2 separate regions of the Homo sapiens genome follow, and region 2 is linked to region 1. Evidence: fine-mapped QTL for protein levels in blood plasma. A gene starts in region 1. The other region holds a variant in brackets. All regions are shown on one strand. Distances are between the middles of the regions.

Region 1 (2,913 bases):
CTGTCCATGATCTTCTTCAGCCAGGGGCAGGTGGAACCGATGGCCAGGTTGTACCACTTCCCATAGATCTAGGAGGCAGGTGAGCTCTGGGGGTCTGCATCAGTCTCAGACCTCAAAGCAGACCTGGCTGACATCTGCTCCCCACCCTCCACCTCCTCCTCTTCCTCCTCCTTCTCCTCAAAATGACTTATCCTTTTAAGGGATAATGTCTTACAACTAATCAGAGGCCACACACCTTCAAGGGAGGCCAGATCCCTAAGAGTGGCGTTTCAGGCATCACAGCGAACCCAGGAAGCAGGTGTGCGGCTGGGGTCCCAACCTGCCCTGCAGAAGGGCTAACTCTCTCAAGATGTGGGATCTGTCCATAGCTCCATCAACCACTGCTCCCCAAGAGCTGGAGTCCTGTCTTTTACTCCTCCAATGATGGGGTGCTCCCCACCTTGCAAGGCAGCCCACAGCCCCATGTTAGGAATTATTTCAAAAGTATAATGAACATGATGGGGTCATTCAGGATAGGCCTGCTTCCTCTTCCTCCTGAAAGTGCACGGGACAGCTGAAGGAGCCCTCAGGCTCCTACGGAACAGGCCAATGTGCCCCACACCCTTTGCGTCCCAGACTGCCACAGGGACCTGCTCCTCATTGCCCCTCTGCCACGACCTTTCCTTGTCCCTAAAAGTAAACAAAACCCACATGACACCACAGCTAGAAGGTTCTGAGACCCTTCATACAGACATGGAGACAGCCCCAGGTGGGCAAGGGTATTCTCAAAGCCACCCCGGGATTTAGGGCAGAGTGGGGGCTGGAAGGCAGCTCTGGCACTCCACACTCACAGGAGAGTGTCCTGCCCCAGTCCAGGTCTCTCCTTGTGCCCAAGCCTCTGAATGTCTCCCAACCCTAATCTCTGTCCTGCTTCACCTCTTCCCATAAGCCCCACATGCCCAACCCAAAAGCTGCTGGCCACATGCCCACGCTGTGCCACCCCAGGTGTCTGTCCACAGTCAGGCCAGGATGTGGGCAGGGGACACAGGAAGAGCTAAGGGAAAGATGCCACAGAGAGAGGGGAGTCATTAGAGAAGGAAGGGCTGGGAGGTCTGGGCAAAGCTAGGTGTCTGCACGGGGGCTGCAGGGCAGTGGCAGGCAGGACAAAGCCTTCTCTGGAGCAGGTTCCCATTAACACAAGGGTTCCCCTTGGAGCCCACGAGGACAGTGCAGAAGGTGAGGATGTTTGACTCATAGAATGTCAGCCAAGAGACCCACGGAATGGCAGGGGATAGAGCTGTACCTTCAAAGGATCCCATAATCCCAGATGATCTGAGTGGAAGCCTGAGACCCCGAGACAGGCCGCACTTGCCCAGCAGGGCCCATCTGCCTGGACTCCCCATCACCACATCCACCCTACCACAGAGAGCGGCAGCCTTACCCGAGAGATATTGAAGTTTTCCTGCACTTGGATGTTGTCGGGCGGCGTTGGCACAGGGCCAGCGCTCACCGCCAGGCAGGCGCTCAGCAGCAAGAGCAGGGCCCCGAGGCTCCTCATGGCTATGGGCTCCTCTGCCTTGGTATATCCCACAGGCTCGGTCTAGCAACAGAAGGGCCACCGCCTCCCTGCAACAGGGCAGCTGTGAACTGAGGCTGGGGAAGGGGCCTGTGGCTTGTAGTTGACCTCAGTGTTTGCCCTGCTCAGCTGGGGCCAATTACAGCCCCAAGGACAGCTCCAATCGATCCCTGTAGCCTGGCTGGGGTCAGCAGTACCAAGAGGCCGGGATGGCTGCTTCAGAAGAGGCATTGGCCAAGCACAATAGGGCCCTGGAGCACCAGGATTGGGCTCCGCCCCCCAAAAGTCCCCCACAGAGGGCATGCGAGGATGGGGAGCGACCTGGCCTTTCTGCTGAGTCATGCCATCTGGACCTCACAGCTCTGTGAGCCAGCAGGTCAAGCCTGATTGGGCCCATTTCTCACAGGAAAAAACTGAGGCCCAAGGAGAGGAAGTGACTTGCCAGAGACCTCAGGGAAGTCTATGGGCAGAGCCAAGACCAGAACCCAGGTATCCTGTCTCCAGAGTTCCTTCTCCAGCCCCCAGGCTTGCCCTAGCCTTTGCAAATAATAGAGACATTAACAATGATGACTGTTACGAGCTTCCGTTCACTGAGCACCTGCTATGTGCTGGCTGTGTACCAGGCACTTTACACGTGCCACAGGTGTCCAGTAAATCCCCACAACAAGCTTACGAAGTAGGTGCTATTTGTCCCCTTTACAGGCAGAGGAGTTGAGTCTCCAAGAAGTGAAGTGACTTGCCCAGAATCCCTCAGCCGGGAGTGGAGTAGCTGGGAAAGGCGTGGTAGAGACCATGGACGTGGGAGCCAGGCAGCCTACAGTGGCACTCACTGCTGTGTGACCTTGGGCAAGTCACTTTACCTTTCAGTGCCTTGGTTTCCTCATCTGTAAATGGGGATAATAATAGTTCCTAGCTCCTAGCATTGTTGAGTGAGCACCTGCAATGCGCTAGGACAGTACCCAGCATAGAGTAAGAGCTGAGTGTTTGTGGTGGGTTGAACAGTGCCCCCTCCAGAATCCATGTGCACCCCGAACCGCAGAATGAACCTGATTTGCAGATGTGATTAGTTAGATGAGGTTGAACTGGATGACAGGGGTTTTAAATCCAATGACCGGTATCTTTATAAGAGAATGGTGAGGGAGACTCAGACACAGGGACACAGAGAGAAGCACGGGGAAGATGTGGCGTGACGCCGAAGGCAGAGATGGGAGGGATGCAGTGACACGTCAAAAATCACCAAGGATTGATGGCAGCCACCAAAAGCTAGCAAAAGGCAAGGAAGGACTTTTCCCCAGAATCTTCAAAGGGAACATGGCTCTGCTGAAAATTTGGTCTCAGGTGTCTGACCTCCAGTGCTG
Region 2 (2,913 bases), 12 kb before region 1:
AACCAAGGAAAAAAACACAAGACATTTTGGAACCGAATAGAATGGCTCAGCTGTGCCCTGCAACCTCCAGGCCTGGTATGTCATCAGATTTATTATTCTTCCTAATACTTCTAAATCCAGAAGGAGAAAACTGAGGGGCACCCCATCCCTTTCCTTTCCTGACAGAGGAGTAGTGAACATGCCTTTTGGAGAGAAAGGAGTAAAAAGCAAAAATGGAGTTCACAGAATGGGAGGAATGGTAGTAAAAGTTCCAGGGCTATACAATTGAGTGCTCCAGGACATGTTGTCGTAGGATGGATTATATCACACCAGCCCACCTAGGGATAATGAGCCCCATCCAGAACATTCAGCAGTCCTTCCAAACAGAAGCAGAGGAAGGATGTTATGGATTGAACTGTGACCCCCAAAATTCATATACTGGGGTCCTAACCCCCCAGAACCTCAGAATGTGACCTTATTTGGAAATCAGATTGTTCAGATGCAATTAATTAAGATGAGGTTATTAGGGTGGACCCTAATCCAATATGAGTGGTGTCCTTATAAACGGGTGATTCGCACACATAGAGAACTCCCTGTGAAGATAAAGGTGGGAATTGGGATGATGTTTTTAACAAGCCAAGGAACACCAGAGACTGCCAGCAAACCACCAGAGGCCATGGGAGAGACACGGCACAGATTCTTTCTCGAAGCCCACAGAAGGAACCAACCCTACCAACAACTTGATCTTGGACTTCTGGCTTCCAGAACTGTGAGACAGCAAATCTGTGTTGTTTAAATCCCCAGCTTGTGGTTCTCTGTTACGGCAGCCCCCGGAAACACACAGACAGTATTCAGACCCGCATGTGCACCTCGGGGCAGTTCATTACCCCACCCCCACCCCCACCCTCACCATTCCCTTGGACTTTACAAAAGTTGATGAACATAAAACACCCAGATCTTACACTAAAGTAGGATGGGGCTAGGGGGAGGTGGGATTGGGCTCAAATTTGATGGGAAGAGGACCAAGGAGTAAATGACACCTCCCATTGTACCAGAACAAACAGAAAGTCTGGATAAAGCTGACGAAGAAGAAGCAAGATGAAGATAAATGGTACAGAAACTACCCAAACCCACCTCAGAAGTGAATAAAAAAATAAATAACCTGAATAAGAGAAAGAGCCCAGCTGTGGTGGACACCTTAATAAACTACCTGGATTTCCCTCAGCAATGGATGTACTTTCTCAGTCGCTGGCAGTGCTACTGTCAGACAGCCCCCAGGGGTCAGCCCCTTTTGGGGACTGTGGCAGCTAAAGGAGCCATCTTACCCAAGGTCATGCGCACCTCCCAGACTGATCAACACAGGGGTATTAGGGCTCAGCCCCTTTGCAGCATCTTGGGACGTCTCTGAAATGTCAGAGGTCCCTGTAGTGTTGGCTGAGGCATTGTAACTGCATCACAGCTGGACTGCTTCCTCTGCCCTATCCTGCCTTCATGTCTTCTCCCCTACAGGTGTTGGTCCTGGGGAACCCAACCTGTGATACCAGAAGAAAACAGAACTCAAGAAACAGAAGGAAATTCCTCAATGCCTTCAAGCTATAGAATTACTTAATCAGAACATGCATTTATGTGCACGTGTGTGTGTGTGTGTGTGTGTGTGTGTGTGTGTGTAGAGATGGGGTCTTGCTATGTTGCCCAGGCTGGTCTTGAACTCCTGGCCTCAAGCAGTCTTACTGCCTCAGCCCCGCAGA[A/G]TGCTGGGATTATACGCATGAGCAAAAACAACAGAATAAGATGAAAAGAGAAAATCCAAGCCTACAGAAACAAATTGAGAACCAAAACAACATAATTCAGAACCAGCAAATAAATTAGAAATAGAAATAGCAAGGAACAGAATGAAATGACGGTCTGCACAAAGGAATGACTGCTAAAAATGCAATGAATGTCATAGGAGAGAGACTAGTGATAATCCCAGTGAATGCAGATGGAAACGACAAAGAGATGAAAGCGACTGGGAAGAAACTAATAGATGTGGAAGGCAAAGATGCTCCTGGATGAGAGAACAAGTGTTCCCGAGGTAGCAAAACCCAACAAAAGGAAGGAAGATAAACTCAATGATATCAAGAGAGATTTCCCTCAAACACAGAAGAAATGTAATCTGTATATGAAAAGAGAACATTGAATTCCAGGATGTGTTGTTATTATTATTATTATTATTTTGAGACAGAGTCTTGCCCTGTCACCCAGGCTGGAGTGCAATGGCGCGATCACGGCTCACTGCAACCTCTGCCTCCCGGGTTCAAGTGATTCTACTGCCTCAGCCTTCCAAGTAGCTGGGACTACAGGCCTCAGCCACCACACCCAGCTAATTTTTGCATTTTTAGTAGAGATGGGGTTTCACCATGTTGGCCAGGATGGTCTCGATCTCCTGACCTCTTGATCTGCCCGCCTCACCTCCCAAAGTGCTGGGATTACAGGTGTGAGCCACTATGCCTGGCTCAGGATGTATATTTTAAATAGAGACAAGGTCTCACTGTTGCCCAGGCTAGAGTGCAGTGGCACAATCATAGCTCACTGTAACCTAGAACTCCTGGGCTCAAGCAATACTTCCTCCTCAGCCTCCCGATTTGCTGGGACTACAAGTGCCACCCACTGAGCTGGCTAATTTAAAACAAACAAACAAACAAACACACTTTTTGTAGAGATGGAATCTCACTATGTGGCCCAGACTGGTCTCAAACTCCTGGCCTCACGTGATCCTTCTGCCTCACCTTCCCAAAGTGCTGAGATTACAGGAATGAGCCACTGCACCCAACCCCCAATAAATTTTTAAATAGAATTTTCAACATCAAGACAGGTTTTGTTAAGATGTTGATTTTAATGATAAAGTTTTCCCAGGCATCTGAACAGAAGAAATAAATTGCCTACAAAGAGAAGAAA

Evidence for each region. A credible set is the group of variants that fine-mapping cannot tell apart. PIP is the chance, under the fine-mapping model, that this variant and not a neighbour inherited with it causes the effect. Protein levels are from antibody-based Olink assays in UK Biobank. Linkage for the fine-mapping came from a reference panel and not from the study's own genotypes, which makes the PIPs less certain.
Region 2: its variant is the best candidate, but not a certain one, in a credible set for the plasma level of the AMBP protein (UK Biobank, PIP 0.53).

What each region holds. Positions count from the first base shown.
Region 1 is chr9:114,076,673-114,079,585 of GRCh38, forward strand. AMBP (alpha-1-microglobulin/bikunin precursor) reads right to left here and starts at 1,628. Exons shown (of 10, transcript NM_001633.4): 1 at 1,421-1,628; 2 at 1-68. The coding sequence starts at 1,537.
Region 2 is chr9:114,064,766-114,067,678 of GRCh38, forward strand. All of the region lies in intron 6 of AMBP (alpha-1-microglobulin/bikunin precursor), which reads right to left. Among named protein-coding and RNA genes, the nearest start is that of AMBP, 12 kb to the right of the region's middle. The variant A/G (reference allele first, on the strand shown) is at 1,728.